Linked DNA regions of Homo sapiens. The protein of the gene in region 4 interacts with the protein of the main gene of each other region in a pairwise test. Each region holds a gene or a part of one and is shown on either strand. Other genes may lie near its edges.

Evidence for each region.
Region 1: the proteins of NFE2L2 (region 4) and ETV6 interact in binary tests that used the Homo sapiens proteins (3 or more experiments, as listed by UniProt).
Region 2: the proteins of NFE2L2 (region 4) and CREBL2 interact in binary tests that used the Homo sapiens proteins (3 or more experiments, as listed by UniProt).
Region 3: the proteins of NFE2L2 (region 4) and TEF interact in binary tests that used the Homo sapiens proteins (3 or more experiments, as listed by UniProt).

The regions. Positions count from the first base shown.
Region 1 is NC_000012.12:11,655,616-11,660,471, forward strand, and holds part of ETV6 (transcription factor ETV6), read left to right. Parts: intron 1-4,856. UniProt on the Homo sapiens protein: Transcriptional repressor; binds to the DNA sequence 5'-CCGGAAGT-3'. Plays a role in hematopoiesis and malignant transformation.
Region 2 is NC_000012.12:12,609,988-12,615,473, forward strand, and holds the start of CREBL2 (cAMP-responsive element-binding protein-like 2), read left to right. Parts: upstream 1-1,888; 5' UTR 1,889-2,185; coding exon 2,186-2,200; intron 2,201-5,486. UniProt on the Homo sapiens protein: Probable regulator of CREB1 transcriptional activity which is involved in adipose cells differentiation. May also play a regulatory role in the cell cycle.
Region 3 is NC_000022.11:41,380,050-41,385,539, forward strand, and holds the start of TEF (thyrotroph embryonic factor), read left to right. Parts: upstream 1-1,892; 5' UTR 1,893-1,995; coding exon 1,996-2,152; intron 2,153-5,490. UniProt on the Homo sapiens protein: Transcription factor that binds to and transactivates the TSHB promoter. Binds to a minimal DNA-binding sequence 5'-[TC][AG][AG]TTA[TC][AG]-3'.
Region 4 is NC_000002.12:177,233,649-177,238,504, forward strand, and holds part of NFE2L2 (nuclear factor erythroid 2-related factor 2), read right to left. Parts: intron 624-4,856; coding exon 357-623; intron 1-356.

The DNA of each region.
Region 1 (4,856 bases), on a different chromosome or scaffold from region 4:
GAAACTAGTGCTACGATGTGCTTGGAACTGTTCCTTTAGTGTCAAAATATTACCACACATTTTATTTGCTCTGTTAATTTGTTTGATAACCTTTTCTTCTTAGTAAAAATACAGAGTTCAGCCTGGTCGTTGTCTAAATGATCTGGAATTCCCAGAGTGTGGACGAGGGGCTTGATTAGAAAAGGTATTGCCCCGTGTTAAGTGTGGACTCTCAGATGAGCATAACTGCTCACTCAGCCCTATGGATTTCGCTTACAGGAAACGGTAGAATGCTTGCATTTCTGAAACTTTGTAAATTCTCTGTAATTAAAGGTGTTCGTCTGCTGTTTTAGTGGCCGTTGTTCTACAACAACCAGTTGTAGCTTACAGCTATATAGTGATTTATTACAAAACACTTTCTTCTTCTCCTTTTCCTTCTTCCTCTTCCTCCTCCTCTTCTTCTTCCTCCTCCATCATCATCACCGGCATCATTTATTGAATGCTACTGCATGCTGGTCCTTGTGCTGTTTTATATACATTATATACATTATCTCATTTACTCTTCACAGCTCTCTATGGATGCAGTTTTTCTCTCCATTCTACAAATGAGGAAACTGAAGCCCAGAGAGGTTAAGTGATGTATTGGCCTAAGACCTCGCAGGCTGTAAGTGGCAAAGCTAAGGCCAGAATCTCTACTGTGGGACTCTAATTCCAAAGTATTTTCTATGAGGGCATTCCAAAGTGCAGCCATTTTTGCGAAGAAAATTAGGAAACTTGAAGTGACGGGTGGCTGGTGGATTGTTACATAAGCCGAGATGAGAGGCAGGAATAGAGCTGGCAGAAGTGCTTGCAGAGGTTCTGAATTTCCTCTGCTTCCTGGTCTCTTCTGAAGATGGGTCTTCCTAGCCATTACACAAGTAGCGGGGACAACCAGATGGTCACACAAAGCCACCACCCACTGTGGAATGAATGTCTAAGTTTTCCATATTTACCCCAGTCTCTAATGTCCTCTGGTGAAATTTTGTCTTTGATGGGTTTCATTTTGGGCCCTTGTTGTTTTTCTCAGATGCCTTTCTTTTCCTTGTGTTTTTCTTGCTTCCTCCGGTGCTTAATGGCTTCTTCATGAAGCGGTTGGAAATCTGAGAGATTGTGTCATCCTGCCCGGCCTCGGGCTAGACACCTTCTTTGCCTGCTTTTTACTTCCTGGTCAGTTGCTTCTCCTTATACAACTTTTTTTTTTTTCCTTTTAAAGCTTTTCACACAATCCATAAACACAAATTTTTGTTTTTCTTAAACCATCTCTCATGTACATCTTTAATATTATGTGATTTCCAGGAATCTATTTCAGATATTCCCTCATTTTCCCCTATAACAAAAGGAATCATCTTTTTTTGACTCCTGTCTCGATGGCTTGACCCAACTCGCCTGTTCTAATTTCCTGGAATGAAGAGAGCATTTCGGCCATCTGACTTTATACATTTCTGATTTTGAACGACTCTAGTGAAGAGAGTCTTCAGAGCAAATGTAGGGAAAGAAACAGAGAAAGAGAGAGATGTGTTGTGGAGATAATATGAGGGGATTCAGAGAGCATTATCCAAATTTGTCATGAAGCAAATGAGGAAACTGAGTCTTGTGGCGTTTAAAGAGCTTGCCTGAGATCACATTCCTAACTGATCAAGCCAGAGTCAGAATCAGTGTTCCATCCTAGGTCCATGTTCCTCTAACACCATAGCAGAGGAAAAATGAGAAAAAACAGGCAAGAATTCAGAAAGCATAGCTTCCTTTTGAAGATTCACATGACATATTAGTGTTCATCATTGTGACTTCCAAGTGAAAGACAGAGTTCATGTTATGAGATTTAAGAAGTGAAGAAAGAATGCAATGTATTTTGGAAAGATATCTAACAAAAATGGTTGGCATAAGAATAATGTTAAGTTTTAAAAGGCTAAGCTTCAGTTACGTGGATGAATGATTTATGAAAAGTACTCCCCCATGAAGACACAAAAGAGGTAGCCAATGCATCTGCAAGTTCTTGAGGCCTGATGGCCTCCCTGGGGGTATTTTCCCTTTGTATGTGGGAGTCAGATATACGGAAAACGACTTCATTTCCTGAATGACCCAAAAAGGACGCATTGCCCTGCTGAGTGCCAGTTGGTGAGTGTGCTCAATGGTGTTAGTGTTGCCACAGTGTAGTTCCAGTCACCACGTCTTTCGATTTTGACTTACATTTTCTTCTGTCTTATGTTGTTCTTTGGTTCTTACCTGTAAAGCTGACTTCCCTTCAGGAGATTGTAAGGTGCTCAGAAAAGGGCTTTACCTCACTGCCATGCTGTGAATTCTCCTAGGGGAAGAGTACAGACAATGGAGTAGACAGACCCATGAATCCTGGTTCCTGAACTTGAACTTGTTCAAGCTACTTAATCATGAACCTGTTAACTCATCTGAAGTGGTAATAAAAATGTGTCTCTTAGGGTTGTTGGGATATGTACATTGCCCAATGTAGTGCTTTATACTGTTAAAAAGTTAGTTCTCCTCCTCCTTTATACATCCTCCATAACACATGGATCTGGAAGAGGCTAGAGATTTTCTGGTTCTGTGCCCACATTATACAGTTGAGAATACAGAGGCCAGGGGATGGTTTGTTTTTGTTTTTGTTTTTGAGACAGAGTCTCGCTCTGTCACCCAGGCTGGAGTGCAATGCCGAGATCTCAGCTCACTGCAACCTCTGCCTCCCAGGTTCAAGCAATTCTGCTGCCTCAGCCTCCTGAGTAGCTGGGATTACAGCTGTGCACCACTCACCTGGCCAATTTTTGTATTTTTGGTAGAGACAGGGTTTCACCATGGTGGCCAGGGTGGACTCAAACTCCCGACTTCAATTGATCCTCCTGCCTCGGCCTCTGAAAGTGCTGGGATTACAGGCGTGAGCCACTGTCCCCGGCCCCCGGCCAGGGATGTTAATGGCCTTGCTCAAGCTCGTGTGGCTAGTTGGTGGTGCCATCTGAACTAAAATCTAGGCCTCCCGAGTCAGCTGACTCCCTGCACAGTGCTCTTGTCACTGTCCCATTGAGTTGTTCACAGGGCTGGGGTCACTCAGTCAGTGCTCAAAAAAGCTCTTATTTTAACTTTAATTGAATACAAGCCTCAACAATAGGAGAGATGAGCCAAGTGCAATTATATGATAATAGCAAATGCCTTTTGCATCTTACAGCAGAATTTTGAAGGAATAGCTAATGTGGTTCTGAATAAGTTTCCAGAGATGAAAGAAAAGGAAAAAACCTAAGTCTGGAAGTACTGTACAGTGAGTCTAACTAGCATTATTACTCAGCGCTCAAGTATTTGAACCTATTCAGGGATCTGCTCCTTCATACAGTTGCTTATTATTTGTGACTGGGGTGAGACTTGAAAGAGAGCATCAATTCTCCAGTCTGCTTTTGTTTAACAGGCAGTTCCATGTCTGTCTGACCACAGAACAGACACTGTTTGCTGTGGGCTGGTGAATGTTCACTTTCAAGAGCAGGGAGTAGATGGCCCTTCGTGGAAGTTTAATTATACAGAAGAGTTTGAAAAGGCCAAGTTTGTTACTTTGGGGCATGGGGAAACCTTCCTCTCTAGCAGATGTGAGGGGACCGAAGTGTCTCTTTTCAGCAGTTGTATTCTTCTTGCTGTGGACCTAAATTCGATCCTAAGTCATTCTTTGTATGTACATGGCAGATGAGAAGATGAACTATAGACTGGAAAATAACCCTTTTTTGAGGAATTGTGGAGAAAATGTTACCCACCTGTCCCTCCTACCACCATGCAATAAGTGTGGGCTACTTAATACTCTTGAAGCAAGAGTTTAGGTTTGGAGAGAAACTGCTCCTCTGATCTTCTCCTGGAAACCACAAGTGGAAGTTTGTGATTTTCTTCTCAGCTGCCCTGTCCCCTCTCCCTTGGGTTATGACAGGCCGTGTAACTTTATCTTTCTTAGGACTTATCTCTTTGATGAGGTCAGTAATCCTGCTTCACTTACGTCCCCTATACGTAAGATTGCCATAACCAAAGATGACATGCAGACTCTAAAGCATTTCCTGGAAAAAATGAGCTACAGATAGAAGTAAGGCTCGTAATTTAAAAAATCGAACCCCAGAGAACAGCCTGTCTCTGAAGTTAACCATTCCCCCAGTACTTTCTCTTGTTTCCCTGGTGAAAGTGTGAATCTGGGTTGTGGCAGGGGAAGTTCTGGCACTGCTAAGAGGTGAGGAAGGAAGAGGGAGGGCCCAGAGCTGCCCACCTCACTTGCAGGTGTGGCCTGGAAGAGTGCCGGGGTCTCTAATGAAGAATCAAGTTCAAGGGATGAAGAGGAGTTGGCGAAGGGGCACAAAAATACAGCTAGATAGAAGGAATGTGTTATAGTATTCATTAGTATAATAGGGAAATTAGAGTTAACAATTTATTGTGTATTTCAAAATAACTAGAAGAATTGTACTGTTCCTAACACAAAAGAAAAATGTTTGAGGCAATAGATATGCCAGCTACCCTGATCTGATCATTACACATCTGCACAGATATCAAAATGTCACATGTACCCCCAAAATATGTACAACTATTATATATCAACAAAAAAAATCAAAGAGACAATTTAGAATAAGTATGGTCTCAAGCCTAGTGACTAATATGTGGACAAGTAGATCTGCACTAGGGTATACAGGAGGAAGTATTATGGAGACTTCATAAAAAGGGAGATGGGGCGGGGCGTGGTGGCTCACGCCTGTAATCCCAGCACTTTGGGAGGCCGAGGCGGGTGAATCACCTGAGGTCAGGAGTTCAAGACCAGCCTGGCCAACATGGTGAAACCCTGTCTCTACTACAAAAATTAGCCGGGTGTGGTGGTAGGT
Region 2 (5,486 bases), on a different chromosome or scaffold from region 4:
TGGTTTTTAATATATTCACAGGATGTGCAACCATCACCAAAATCAATTTTAGATAATTTTCTTTTCTTCTTTTTTTTTTTTTTTTTTTTTGAGTCGGAGTTTCGCTCTTGTTGCTCAGGCTGGAGTGCAATGGCACGGTCTCAACTCACTGCAACCTCCGCCTCCTGGGTTTAAGCCATTCTCCTGCCTCAGCCTCCCACGTAGCTGGGATTACAGGTATGCTCTCCCAGGCCTGGCCAACTTTGTATTTTTAGTAGAGATGGGTTTCTCCATGTTGGTCAGGCTGGTCTCGAACTCCTGACCTCAGGTGATCAGCCCACCTCGGCCTCCCAAAGTGCTGGGATTACAGGCGTGAGCCACCATGCCCGGCTGAATTTTAGATCATTTTCATCACCTCAAAAAGAAACCCAGTACTCATTAACCGTCACTCTCCTTTCCAGGATCCCTCCATCCCTGCCATTCTTCAACCCTAGCCCTTGGCAACCACTAATGGATTTTTTGGTCTATTTAGATGTGCCTGTTCCAGACACTTCATTATAAATGGAATCATACAATATGTGGCCTATTGTGTCTGGCTTTTTTCACTTCACATAAAGTTTTCAAGGTTCAGACATATTGAAGTGTGTATATCCCTTCATTTTTTTTCATTGCTGAATAATATTTCTTTCCTTTTTTTTTGAGACAGAGTCTTGCTCTGTTGCCCAGGCTGGAGTGCCGTGATCACAGCTCACTTCAGCCTCCAACTCCAGGGCTCAAACGATCCTCCCACCTGGGCCTCCCGAGTGGCTAGGACTACAAGCACCACCACCACACCCAAGTAATTTTTAAATTTTTTGTAACACACCCAACTAATTTTTAATTTTTTTTGTAGAGACTGCATCTTACTATATGGGTCTTCTTCCTTCTTCTTTCTTCTTCCTTCTTCTCCTTCTTCTTCCTTCATCGTTCTTCTTCCTTCTTTCATTCTTCTTCTTCTTTTTTTTTTTTTTAAATACAGTGTCTGGCTCTGTCGCCCAGGCTGGAGTGCAGTGGTACAATCTTGGCTTATTGCAGCCTCTGCCTCCCAGGCCCAAGTGATCCTCTCATGTCAGCCTCCCCAGTAACTGGGATTACAGGCATGTGCCACCACACTCGACTAATTTTTGTATTTTTTTGTAGAGACAGGTTTTGCTATGTTGCCCAGGCTGGTCTCGAACTCTTGGGCTAAAGCAATCCTCCCGCCTCGGCCTCCCAACGTGCTGGGATTACAGGCGTGACCCACCACCCCTGGCCAGTATTTCTTAATTTGTATAGTCCACACTGGTTTATCCATTCATCCAGTAAAGGACATTTGCGTTGTTTCCACTTTTTGACTATTATGAATAATGCTGCTAGGAAAGAACATTTATATACAAGTTTTTGTGTAGTCACTCGTTTTAATTTCTCTTGGGTATGGGAGTGGCCAATATTCTGAAGAACTGCCAAATTTCTTCCCAAAGTAGCTGCACTATTTTACATACTTAGTTTTTGTTTTTCGTTTTTTTTTAAATAAAGAACCTTTAGGGTTTCCTCAGCGTCCCAGAGGAGGGCCTGCTTCCGGCACCCCGCCTTCAGGGCTGCCTCCGCAGAGCACCAAACTCCCGTCCCCGCCATTCCAGGCCCTGGCACTTAGGAGCCAAAACCTCAGGTCAGGCGCACTTTGGGCCTCCAGCCCAGCCCCGCCTCCTCAGCGCTAGCTAGTAGGCAAAAGGAAAACAGCTGCCCCTTAATGAGGCTATGTGGACATCGTAGTTTTTTTTCCAGTCAGTAGCGCAGAGACTGTGATAAGAAAAATCACAATTCCCAGAATGCCGCGGTGCTACGGCAGCCGAAGGGGCCATTCCGTGTGCAGCGCTCCCGCCCACCCTCCGGTCTCGGCGGCTCTCCAGAGCGTCTGTAAACACCCAGAGACTGTCATGGAGGGGGAGGAGGAGGCGGCGGCGGCGAAGGGAGGCGTTTGGGGCCGCCTCCAGGGTCCGCTCTGCCATTCCTGAACTGGTCCCTCGTCCCCGTGACTCTGGCATCAGGGAAGCGAACTGTTAGGCGAGAGGAGGAGGCAGCCAGAACCATATCCCCTTCTTCCTCGGGGCGGGGGCCGGGCCAGGCCGGCTGAGCCGGGGGAGGGCTCCGGGAGGGAGTGCCTGGCCAGGCCGGCCTGTCTGCCGCGATGGATGACAGTAAGGTAAGTCTTGTGGTTTGCACGCGCCGCCGCCTTCTTGTCGCTCAATGCTAGTCCCGCGGCTGAACCTCCGCTATGTAGTCCACGCCAACACCCAAGAGACACCTGCCTAAAACATCCCTGCGCCTCTCCAGTCCACTGCCCGATGGTACCCAGCCAGGAAATCAGGGAACACCGGGGCTGCGTTTTTCCAGGAAGGGCCCTCTCTGGAAATTTTTCACTCCCAGGGCGTTTGCTAGCTTTCCAGGTAGTGCAACCCCTAGTCCTTAACTTGCCTGTCGAGATAAGAAACTACTGTACTTTTTCTTCTTGCACTTTTTTGCTGCCTCCTCTCTCCAGTTTGGAGACTTTAGTGCACGCTGAACCAGCCTTATTCCCCTTGACGATTCCCCTTCTCTCAGGCTCCCTTACTCAATGCCCCATTCATATAATCAGTTCACTCCCCCTCTGAGCTATTTCCTGTGGTTGGTTGGAACACCGCTAAGCTCCTGTTGCTATTTGGCCAGTGTGGAGTTTAACCTCCACTAGAAAGCCTTCTCTAAAAAAATACTGATTTTCCTCTTGTTAACTTTAATAGCCCATCACCATCCAATTTCCCTGTCCAAATCACTTACTTTATGATTATAAAATAATAGATAATGTTCATTATTGGTTAATCCAAATAGTTTATCTATGTATAGCCTTTTTGTCTTTATTTATTAATTGAGACGGAGTTTCGCTCTTGTCGCCCAGGCTGGAGTGCAATGGCGCGATCTCGGCTCACCACAACCTCCGCCTCCCGGGTTCAAGCGATTCTCCTGCCTCAGCCTCCCGAGCAGCTGGGATTACAGGCATGCACCACCATGCCCGGCTAATTTTGTATTTTTGGTAGAGATGGGGTTTCTCCATGTTGGTCAGGCTGGTCTCGAACTCCCAATCTTAGGTGTCCGCTCGCCTCGGCCTCCCAAAGTGCTGGGATTACAGGCGTGAGCCACCGCGCCTGGCCGCCTTTCTCTCTTTACATCTACCCACATTAGTGTTGTTTAGTTTTATTTCCTGAAGATAGGGATGGTCAAAGATTTGTTTATTGATGTTTCAGGTTGTTTTGGATTTGGACTTTTTTATTTTAAGGAATCAGACTTCTAAAATTTGCCAGTTTTTAAAGTAAAAACCGTCCTTCTTTGTGCTTCTCAGCGTCTTCTGTTTCACAGTCTTTGGCATACTCTTTACGATAGCTTTGTCCTTTGTTTGGGTGTCTTTTTTTGCTGCTGCTGCAGTTTTTGTTTCACATATCCTCAGAGAGATTCAAAAAATTTCCAACTTCTCTGTGTTCCTTGTTTTATTCTTTCCTTCTTGTTTTCTCTTCCTCTTCATGTAGAAGGCTGTGAGGAAGTGACAGATGGAAGGGAAAGCCCAGTGCAGTACTCTGGAATTGTTACTCACCTAGAGGAACGGATTGCTTGTGAAGTAGTAAACCCCTCTTAATAGGAAGTGGTATTTCCAAGACAGAAGGGGGGCGAGTTTCAGGAAGCTATCAGCTCATAAGAGTGCTTAATATGCTCAGTACACACATTAATTCCCTTGACAAGAATCTTGCCCTTGTTTGTTTACAACAATGCAACAGAATGCGGGATAACATTGTAGACTCTTCAGTTTTACTATAGTAACATTCGTGGGGTATGATATTGGGGAAGTGGTATTTCCAAGACAGAAGGGTAGCGTTCTAAAAGTTTTCCAGAAAAATCAGCAAGTAATTTTTTTTTTTTTTTGCTTTGAATATTTCTTTGGGGAGGGGACATCACACTTCTTTCTTTTTTCTTTTTTTTCTTTTTTTTTTTTTTTTTTTTGAGACGGAGTCTCCGCTGTATCGCCCAGGCTGGAGTACAGTGGCACGATCTCGGCTCACTGCCGAGAATTGCTCTTGGGTTCAAGCAATTCTCCTGCCTCAGCCTCCTGAGTAGCTGGGACTACAGGCGTGTGCCACCACATCCAGCTAAATTTTTATTTTTCGTAGAGACAGGGTTTCACCATGTTGATCAGGCTGGTCTCAAACTCGAGTGACCTCAGGTGATCCGCCCACCTCAGCCTCCCAAAGTGCTAGGAATACAGGTGTGAGCCACTGCGCCCGGCCAGGACATCACACTTCTACTCAATGAAGATAAACGTTTTTACACCTTTTGTCTTTTTTACCCCTATTATGCCACGAATTCATAGGGAATAAGTTCTAGTAGCTCAGGCTGTTTTCCACTGGTGGAGTAGGCTGGTGCTTCAATTGAACCCAGGTACCTTTCTTATTTAGTTTCCTTTTTTTTTTTTTTTTTTGAAATAGGGTCTTGCACTGTTGCCCAGGCTGGGGTGCGTTGGTGTGATCACAACTCACTGCAGCCTCGAACTCCTGGGCTCAAAGCAATCCTCCACCTCAGCCTCCCAAGTGGCTGGGACTACAGGAATGCACATCCATTCCTAGCTAATTTTTTGCAGAGATGAGGGTCTCACTGGCTTTTTTTTCTGATCATTTTCCTTCACACGTTTCTGGAAGCTGTCAGCTCTTAAGAGTACTTAATATGCTCAATATACACATTAATTCTCTTGGCAAGAATCTTTCCCTTTTTTGTTTACAACAATGCCAACAGAATGCTGGGTAACATTGTAGACTCTTCCAGTTTTGCCATAGTAAGATTTGTAGGGCATTAGTTTTTTTTTTTTTTTTTTGAGATGGAGTCTCTCTCTGTCCCCCAGGCTGGAGTGCAGTGGCACGATCTCAGCTCACTGCAATCTCTACCTCCTGGATTTAAGCGATTCTCCAGCCCCAGTCTCCCGAGTAGGTGTGATTACAGGCATGGGCCACCATGTCCGGCTAATTTTTTTTTGAGACAGGGTCTTGCTCAGTCGCCCAGGCTTGATGCAGTGGTGCAGTCTTGGCTCACTATAAACTCCGCCTCCCGGGTTCAAGTGATTCTCCTGCGTCAGCCTCCTGAGTAGCTGGGATTACAGGTGCATGCCACCACAACCGATTAATTTTTGTATTTTTCTTAGAGATAGGGTTTATTAGAGCCTGCCATGTTGGCCAGGCTGACAGGGTTTTGCCATGTTGGCCAGGCTGGTCTCGAACTCCTGGCCTCAAGTGATCCGCCCACCTCGGCCTCCCAGAGTGCTGAGATTACAGGCATGAGCACTGCACCTGGCCAACTTTTTGCATTTTTTTTTTTTTTTAACAGAGACAGGGTTTCATCATGTTGGCCAGGCTGGTCTGGAACTCCTGACCTCAGGTGATCTGTGTAAGGTATTCCCTTTTAAACAGTCCCCATTC
Region 3 (5,490 bases), on a different chromosome or scaffold from region 4:
TCCTGTCTCTACCACCACCCAAAGTCCTTCAAATCTCTTGCTTTCCAGGCCTGGTCAGCTACCCAACTTCTTTTTCCTCCTTACCCCGCCGCAAAATTATTTTTATTTATTTATTTTTTTGACATGGAGTCTCCCTCTGTCGCCCAGGCTTGACTGCAGTGGCGCGATCTCGGCTCCCTGAAACCTCCACCTCCCAGGTTCAAACCGATTCTCGTGCCTCAGCTTCCCCAGTACCTGGGATTACAGGCGCCAGCCACCATGCCCGTCTAATTATTTCTGTACTTACAGTAGTGTCGGAGTTTCGCCCTGTTGGCCAGGCTGGTCTCGAACTCCTGACCTCAGGTGATCCGCCACCTCTGCCTCCCAAAGTGCCGGGATTACAGGCGTGAGTCACCAAGCCCAGCCCCAGCAAAATTCTGATTGCATCAGCTTGATAACTTTTAGCTGGCTGTGGGTGTCTGGATCATGCATCTACCCCCTGAACCAAGGACTATCACTATACCACCCCCCCAACCCCTCCTGCTAGAAGGGCTGGGCCACTGTAGGGATGCTGGATAAACAAGCCAAGCTCTCTGCCTTCCGGGAGTTAAGCGGGGAGTCTAATGTTGCCTGGGTTTGCAGCGGAGTCTGATCTGTACTATAAAGAGGTACAAAGTTCTGAGCGCTGTTTAGGAGCAGCTTTCCATTTGTGTACCGCGCCACATATTACATTTTTACGGATTTCTGCGGAACTCCCGGGGAGGCTTTATATTTTAAGAGAGGAGGTGGTTCTCCCACAAAACGTGGCATCGGTACCTGGTGTCAAGGAGGTTTTTGTTTTCTAGGTAAAAGAAGGGAGAGTTCTAGAAAGGAAAAGAATTTCACATCTGTTTGGGACTGTGGAGATTCTCTAGCCCAACCTCTTAATTTTATGGCCGAGGAAACAAGCTCCAGTGAAGCAACCGGACTTTCCCAAGGTCATAAGCTAGTAAGTGGGAGGGCGGAAACATGTACTCGGGCCCTGGCTCAGGTCAGAGCTTCAGGAATGCTCCCTCCACGCTAGTGTTGATCTGGATGCGTGGGCAACCCGACACCCCGCTCTAGGGCGGCCAAGCCTGCTCAGGCCATCCCTACGACTTGGCAGGTCGCGGTCCCCGGCCCTGCCCTCAGGCGACCTCTGGGTCGCGTGGGAGCAGAAGTGCGGGCTAAGCTCAGCGTCCCTGCCCCGCGACCCTGGGCAGAGTCCCCAGAACAAAAAGACCCGTCCCTCCCTTCCCCTCCCGCCCCGCCACAGCCCCGCACGTGCGGCGCCTCGTGCACCGCCCCGGGCCCCGCCCCCGCCCTCCATTGGCTGTTCCCGCGCCTTCCTCCTCTGCCCCCTCCCCCCGCGACCAGACTCGGCTGCGGCTCCACGTGACCCGCGGGGGGTGGACACGCCGCGCGAGCAGGAGCTCGGATAGGTCGCTTTGGCCGGCCTGGCCGCTCCGAGCTCCGCCCCTCTTCGGTGGCGCGTCGGGAAGGTTGCAAGTCGGGGACAAGAGGGAGAGGCTGCGGTGGTTGGGGAGGGCGGGGGTTATGAAGAGGGCGGTGAAGGGGGAACACTGGTAGGAGGGAAGGGACCGCGCCGAGGAAGGCCCACCACAAAGACTCCAGCAGGCGCCAATCAGGGGACACAGGGGCGGCGGGGCGGGGCCTCCGCGAGGGTCCTCACCTGGCCCCGCACGTGTCTATCTTATCCCGGCTGCCCGACCAATCACGGCCCGAGGATCTGCGCCTGCCCCTCTCGCAGGCTGGACCAATCCAGAGCAACGATCCGGGGAAGCTGGCCTGGCCTCATGAATAATTAATGTGCCAGAGCCGGTCCGCAGGCGGGGTAGCGATGGAAGGAGGCGGGGGCGCCATTGGGCGCCTGCGCAGTAGCTGCCCGTGTCGGCAGCTGCAGCGGGTCGCACGGCTCCGGCCCATCTCGGGGGGCGGGCGGGGGAGGCGAGGTGCGCGAGCCGAGTCCGGGGCACGATGTCCGACGCGGGCGGCGGAAAGAAGCCGCCTGTGGACCCGCAGGCAGGACCCGGTCCGGGGCCGGGGCGCGCAGCTGGGGAAAGGGGCCTGTCGGGGTCCTTCCCCCTGGTCCTGAAGAAGCTGATGGAGAACCCCCCGCGCGAGGCGCGCCTCGGTGAGGGCGGGGGGGTGGTCCGCGCGGGCTGGGGGCGGGGCTTATACAGGGGCGGGGCCTCGTGAGGGCGGGGCCGGGGAGGCAGTGGGTCAGGGAGCAGTGGTCCAGCGGAGGGGGATGGGGCCTGGATGACCAGGAGCCTGGAGGACGAGGCCGGGGGGCTGAGGACAGAGGGTCAGGGGCGGGCTGAGACGGTGGGTCTGGCGGGAGAGGGTGGGGAGAGGTTTTGAGGAGGCGGAAGGGGATCGGGAGCAGTCACTTAAATGACGCTCCAGGGCCCCTCCCCCGGGGCCACCTGCATCGGAGTCACTCGGGATGCCTGTTTAAATTGCTGGTTCCTGCGCCCCACCCAATCTGCGGTCACTGGGACAGGGGTCTTGCATTTTAAGGAGCACCCCACCGCACCCCCATTATTTTCCAAGTACACCAAAGTTTAGGAAGCGCAGGCCTAGGGTAGCGAACTGTCATCGTACGTGGCCTTACCCCTCCCGGAGGGACCTGGCTTCCTCCCTGGGTGTGAGTAGCGCCAGCTACTAGGTCCAACGGGAGCCTTTCTGTTGCGGGGCTTCTGCTGAGCGGGTGGGGGGGGTGTGGGCGAGTAGTGTGAGGCGCCTTGGGAGGGGAGTTTTGGGCCAAGCAGAGAAACGATGAGGGTCAGATGAGTCCACTGAGGCCCTTCGCCTGGTTGGTTGGGGCTGACCCTTAGATTCTGGGGCCACGGCGGCAGGACTGAGCTTCATCTTTTTGCCTAGGCCAGGAACGTCACTGGGGCGTATACGGAAAGCAGGTCTGGCCTTGTTTTTCGCCCTGGGAGATGGGGTGCAGGGAGCAGCAGGAGGGCCGCCTGTGGTGGGGTTGTGGGTGCACTGAGGTATACTTTGAGTGTGAGACCTTTGCATTTCCAAGAGCCATCAGTTATTCAGGGTTTGGGAAAGGGATAGGCCTTCGAGAGTTGTCTGGCCTGGGGAATGGATTTTCCTTTTTAAAATGCCATTTCTCTTCCTTTCCTGGGTGTATGCTGAGGCTCCCATCCCTGTGGCTGTCACTGTTGAGTTATAAATAGCTTCAGCACATCAGGTGAGGCCAGCCTCTCTCCTCCTGCTTTGGGACCTCATGTGCACAAACCCTTTTGTTTGTTTTTGAGACGGTGCTTTGTTCCAAATCTGGGGCTGAGACAAGCTGCAGGGACAGGTGTACACATCTGACAGTTTCTTGTTTGAAATTACCAGGTAATAACCATCCATAACAAGAATTCTACCCGATATTCGTAGAGTGCTCGCAAAGCACGCTGACATCATCTTATTTCATTAACAGTCCTAGAGGGTATTCTCCCCTCTTCCCAGATGAGGAAAATTGAGGCTCAGGGAGGTGAGGGTGCTTCCTCAAGGTCACACAGCTATAACTTTTGACCCTCAGTTTGGTGCTCTTTCTACTGTATCATGCTGGCAGCCACTGTTGCATGACCTGAGTGATGGACTAGTCCTTTATCTCTTACAATTTAAAATTCCACCTTACAAAAACACTGATTTAAAGTATCCTTTATTGCTTAGGCCAGGCAAAACCTGGAACTTATTGTTGCCTGTCTTTCACTATGGCTGCTTTTCTATCTCCTGCCTTCTCCTGCCTCCTTTGATCCCAAATGACCCCACCCGACATGGGTCACAGTCATTTCTGAACAGAGTGAGGAGTCCAGATCTCAAGGGAGGAGAGCAGGAAGGCCATCTGGCCCACCCAGCCCACCAAGGCTTGACTTTCTTACTTCTCAGTTGGTTTTAAACCAAAGCCTGGTATAGAAAGCAGTTGCAGGAATTCAGATTAATTTGTATTAGAAAGCCATGACCAAGTTGTTTGTCAAAACCTCCACCTTCTTAACTCACTGGGTGTGTTCATTTTTATTGGACCAACAAGCTGCTATTTGGTCTGGGAGTCCATGTGTGGCTGGTTTATTTCCAACTTAATCATATTTGATTTCTCCTTTTCACTTATAAATCCAGAGTTCAAAATTGTCTCCCTCAATTTTGAAAACCCATCATGAGCTTGTCATGATTTTATCTCCCACTTCCCTGATTAGCCTCCCTGTCACTTTGATTTCCTTCCAACCTTGTCACATTGCTCTCTTCTCTTTTTTTAATTGCCCTCTCTTGGATATCCACATGTGTAACTTTGTGACTGAGACAATTGGGTAGATCCAGTCCCCACTAATTGATTAGTTTTCCTTTGAATAGGAGCAGTCTTTCTTCTTCAACTCCACCCCTCTCCTTCCTCCCAGAAAACCTGCCTTCAGTCTTTTCTGCTTATTCAGGAATAAAGGTCTCTTGAAATGGTTGCTCTGAAAAGGGTCCTGAAAAGACAGCTCCAGGCCCTTTCTAATAAACCTAACCTGAATCTGTTTGCAAATCCAATATTCTACAGTTAGTATATATATTTTCCCATAGTCCACCGTCTGCCTACCCCTTGTTGGGCCCTTGAGATCTGGAAATAAATCAGTTCATACTTTCAGTGAGCCCACAGTAACAATGATGCCTACAGTGTGCCAGGAACACTGTAAAGACACTTTTTTTTTCTTTCGAGACAGACTTTCGCCCTCGTTGTCCAGGCTGGAGTGTAGTGGTACAGTCTCGTCTCATTACAAACCTCCGCCTCCAAGGTTCAAGCAATTCTCCTGCCTCAGCCTCCCAAGTAGCTGGGATTACAGGCATGCACCACTATTCCTGACTGATTTTTTGTATTTTTAGTAGAGACGGGGTTTCACCATGTTGGTCAGACTGGTCTCAAACTCCTGACCTCAGGTGATTTGCCCGCCTCGGACTCCCAAAGTGCTAGGATACAGGCGTGATCCCACTGCGCATGGCTGTAAAGACACTTTCAAATGTTATCTCTGGCCAGGCCCTGTGGCTTATGCCTGTAATCCCAGCACTTTGGGAGGCCAAGGTGGATGGATCACCTGAGGTCGGGAGTTCAAGACAAGCCTGACCAACATGGAGAAACCCTGTCTCTACTAAAACAAAATTAGCCGGGCATGGTAGCGCATGCCTGTAATCCCAGCTACTTGGGAGGCTGAGGCAGGAGAATCGCTTGAACACGGGAGGCGAAGGTTGTGGTGAGCTGAGACCGCGCCATTGCACTCCAGTCTGGGCAACAAGAGCGAAACTCCTTCTCATAAAAAAAAAAAAGTTATTTCTAATCTTCACCAAAGAAACATCTTTATCCTTATGTACAGTGGAGGATACCAAGGCTCAGAGAGGTTAAGTAACATGGCTAAGGTCACACATCAAACAGCAAGTGGCAAAAATGGGACTCCTCCCTGGGCTGGGTTGCTGTGGAGAAGCATAACTGGA
Region 4 (4,856 bases):
TTCTTAAAACAGTGCTTGCCACACACAGTAACGCCAGTAATCCCTGCTACTTGGTTCTCCTGCTACTACTTCTGTTGCTGCTACTTGATCCTTACAGGATGTTTCTATACTTTACAAAACTCTTTGGTGTAACTTAAGTCTTCCCAATCCTCACAATAACACTGTTAAGATCAATAGGTTGGGTACTGAACTCAGGTTAGGTACTGAACTCATCAGGAGGCTGAGGTTGGAAAGTAGATTTGACAAGGTTAAGTAAAAGAAAGGCAAAGCTGGAACTCAAATCCAGATATTTTAATTCCTTGCTCAGTGTTTCCTTAAACCTGCCATAACTTTCCCAAGAACTGAGTACTCTGTACCTGGGAGTAGTTGGCAGATCCACTGGTTTCTGACTGGATGTGCTGGGCTGGCTGAATTGGGAGAAATTCACCTGTCTCTTCATCTAGTTGTAACTGAGCGAAAAAGGCTTTCTCTTGCTCCTTTTGGAGTTGTTCTTGTCTTTCCTTTTCAAGTTTTTTCTGTTTTTCCAGCTCATACTCTTTCCGTCGCTGACTGAAGTCAAATACTTCTCGACTTACTCCAAGATCTATATCTTGCCTCCAAAGTATGTCAATCAAATCCATGTCCTATGTTTAAGACAAAAAAAGGAAGGAGAGAGCTCATGTTTTTTAAATGACAGATACCACATAAATTAATTCACATTATGCCACTGTTGATGGTGGGAAGTGGGGAGATTACAAATACAATCTAAATGAGAACACAGATCCAATGTTCTAGAAGAGCACAGTTAATTCCATTCAATGAATCTATTCATTAAAGACAACAAACAACCTACAAACACATAGCCATCCATTCTAATCACTTGGATCATTAATGATAGGGTGATGGTAGAGGTCACTAAAGGGCAAAGTCACAAATGGTTTGAATGAGAAGAAATCCCACCCTTGTTTAATGGAATATAGAAATTAGAGCAAGCACTCTAAGCCACTGGCTTATATAAGAGAAGTGGGGTCTGGAAAACATTACTGAATACATGGAGTTTTCTTTAAACTTTGCTCAGCAAATATCCAGTTTATAGAGGGATAACTCTCAAGTTAAAGTGTCAATCTAGCAGTTGTGAAATATCACCATTCTTTCCATCTTTCCTACACTAGATTATCTTCTCCCCATCACTGCTTGCTACTCTTATCTCTGTGGCTTACCTATATGCCTGTAATCCCAGCACTTTGGGAGGCCAAGGTGGGTGGATCACCTGAGGTCTGGAGTTCGAGATCAGCCTGGCCAACATGGTGAAACCACGTCTCTACTAAAAATACAAAAATCAGCCGGGTGTGGTGGTACGTGCCTGTAATCCCAGCTACTCAGGAGGCTGAGGCAGGAGAATCGGCTTGAACCTGGGAGGCAGAGGTTGCAGTCAGCTGAGATCGCACCACTGCACTCCAGCCTGGGCAACAGAGCAAGACTCCATCTCAAAAAAAAATAAAATAAAAGCAGACAGGGACAGGTGCGGTGGCTCACGCCTACAAGCCCAGCACTTTGGGAGGCTGAGGCAGGTGGATTGCTTGAGCCCAGGAGTTCGCGACCAGCCTGGGCAACATGGAGAGACCCTGTTTCTACCAAAACAAAAACAAACAACAACAACAACAACTGGTGTGGTGGCGCACACCTGTGGTCCCAGCTACTCAGGAGGCTGAGGTAGGAGGATCACTTCAGTCCAGGAGGTCATGGCAGCAGTGAGCTATGATCGTGTCACTGCACTCCAGCCCGGGCAACAAAGTGAGACCCTGTCTCATAAATAAATAAATAAATAAATAAAACTATGGCTCCAGGGAAGGATTAAAGGTATTAAGTTTTAAGACATAGGAAGAATCTTACAAAGAGGGAATGGTTTTGATGAGGAGAGGCTGAGCTTGGTGACTCAGGCCTGTAATCCCAGGAGTTTGGGAGGCCAAGGCAGGAGGATTGCTGGAGCACAGGAGTTACTAGCCTGGGCACCATAGTGACACCTGTTTCTACCCAAAATCAAAACAAATTAGTTGCACGTGGTGATACGAGCCTGTAGTCCCAACTATTAGGGAGACTGAAGTGAGAGGATTGCTTGAGCCCAGGAAGTCAAGGCCATGGTGAGCTGTGATTGTACCACTGCACTCCAGCTTGGGTGACAAGACCCTGTTTCACACACACAAAAAGATACATGGGGAGAGAATTTATATGACTAGGCTAGGCATAGGAACCACATCCAGATTTTCCTAACCAAAAATGTGTCAATAGCAGTTTTTCTGATTTGTAATTTTAGTCTTTGGAAAAATCTAAATAGGTAGGAAATCTAAATCTGTTTCCATTCCACAAATCACCTATAGGGGAAATAATTAATTTGAGAATGGAAAAAAATCAAGATGGGGGAACGGGAGTTGGGACTTGAAGGCCAGTGGGTACAGTGTAGACACGTCACACTTTGCATTTCATTCTGCTGACAGCTGGCAACGCCAGACTTAGAGTTCTATTACTTTCAGCTTCCCAAGGACGCAAATAACATGGTGGTTGTTTCAGTGAGGAGTCAGGCTATTTTTATCCAACAGAGGAGCAGGCCACCCAGCCTGGAGGCAGCGCAGCTAGCTAGATGGCACAGGCCACCTGTGTCCATGATTGAAGGTTGGCGTTGGAATCTTAAATGCTATGAAACCCTGCTCATGGGGCTCATTATTCTAGCCTTGAACAATATATATTGTAAAGCACACAAAGTAGGCATAGTTAAAGTAGCACTTGTAGTTAGGTATACCTCACTAGGACATACCTAATTATCTTTAAGCCAGTATCTATTAAGGGCTTCCTATATGCTATGCACTGTTCTAAGTACTTTACATATAGAAACTATTCCTCAAAACAGCCTTATACAGAGAAAACATTCCTGTTATACAGTATAAGAATACTGAGGTTAAGAAAAAAGATACTACCAGAAAGTGGCTGAACAAAGACACATACCCAGGCAGCTTCAGTCGGGTTCATGCTTTATTAGCCATGAGCCTACACTATTATAAAATGGCATGGCATTTGCTGCAAATAACCTATGCATATCCCTTTATATACTTTAACTCATCCCTGGATTACTTACAATACCTAGTAAAGTGTAAATGCTGTGTAAATAGTTGTTATACTGTATTTTATGTGTGTATTGTTATTTTTTCGGGTTTTTTTTCCACTTTTTTCCTTTTGAAATTTTATTATTTATTTACTCATTTTGAGATAGGGTCTCACTCTGTCACCCAGGCTGGAGTGTGGTGATGCAATCATGGCTCACTGCAGCCTTCACCTGGGCTCAAGTGATCCTCCCACCTCAGCCTCCCAAGTAGCTGGGACTACAGGCACATGCCACCAAGCCCAGCTAATTACTTTTTGTAGAGATGGCGTCTTGCCATTTTGCCCAGGCTGGTCTTGAATTCCCGGGCTCCATTGATTTTCCTGCCTCAGCTTCCCAAAGTGCTAGGATTACAGGCATGAACCACTCCACTGTGCTTGGCCTTTTTCCAAATATTTTTGAACCAATCTGCCATTGGTTGCATCATGGAACCAGAGGCTGCATGGGCCGACTGTATATACACTTGGCTTTGGAATCTTGGTAGTATGAAGCGGCCAGTCTGCAGGTCAGATTAAGTCTGTAGGTCACCTAGATCAGTTTCCTGGCCAAGAGCAACAAAATAGCAACCACAGAGCATTCAGTCGACTATACATGGCTATCTTCTCAGGGGGATTCCCACTAAAATAGGTATGAGAATAATTTCTATTTTAAAAAATGATTTGTTTCCATTCTGATGGACATGTTTACCCAAAGGTTATCATGGGAGACAGAAAATTCAAAGGTATAGAGAAACCTACTTTATTTTATTTTTTTTTGAGACGGAGTCTCGCTCTGTCGCCCAGGCTGGAGTGCAGTGGCACAATCTCAGCTCACTGCAACTTCCGCCTCCAGGGTTCAAGCAGTTCTCTCACCTCAGCCTCCTGAATAGCTGGGATTACAGGTGCGTGCCACCATGCCCGGCTAATTTTTCTATTTTTAGTAGAGACAGGATTTCGCCATGTTGGCCAGGCTGGTCTCGAACCCCTGACCTCAAGTGATCTGCCTGCCTCGGCCTCCCAAAGTGCTGGGATTACAGGTGTGAGCCACCACGCCCAGCTGAGAAACCTACTTTAAAATTCTGATTAGCTTGGGCCGCTTCTTCTCAGTAAATCTAGATACATAGCAGGGTATCCTGTCTAGACTTTCTGCAAACTGGAGCTATCTGCCCAAGCAAGGTATTAAGTGTTCAATATGTTCCCATCTTCTAGGTACTAGCACCAAAAATGAAAGGAATGCATGATCCTGCGATCTTAATTGAACTCTGTAAAATAGGCAGTCCATGTTCCCACCCATCTCAAGAAGTGATGTGCAAAGTGTGCAAAGCTCTTTGCAAAGTCAATCAAAGAAACTCAAATACTTGTCCCTGTACGTGGGGAAAAGTGTACTTTGACACATCCCTGCCTCACCCTAGACTTCCTGGGCCTGAGGTTTTTTCTTGTTAAGGAGATCCCAGGATAAAAATCAGTAAAAGGTTGTGACTTTTTCATGCAACTGAAGCAATTTAGGTTGCAAACATCTTCTGCTCATAAATCTGACTTGCAAAGTATCCTTACAACCAACCCTCATGAGCTGGAAGAAAATATTGAATGGAATTTATAATTGTCAGTGTCAATCATGCCAAGAATTGAAATAACTATTTAATTTCCTTTCCCCCCCTTTTCCTTCCCATCAGATGATAATATTTGAGGGGTTTGGATGGCTTTAGCTATACATTGTTTAATTATTCCATCCTACCCAAGCATAC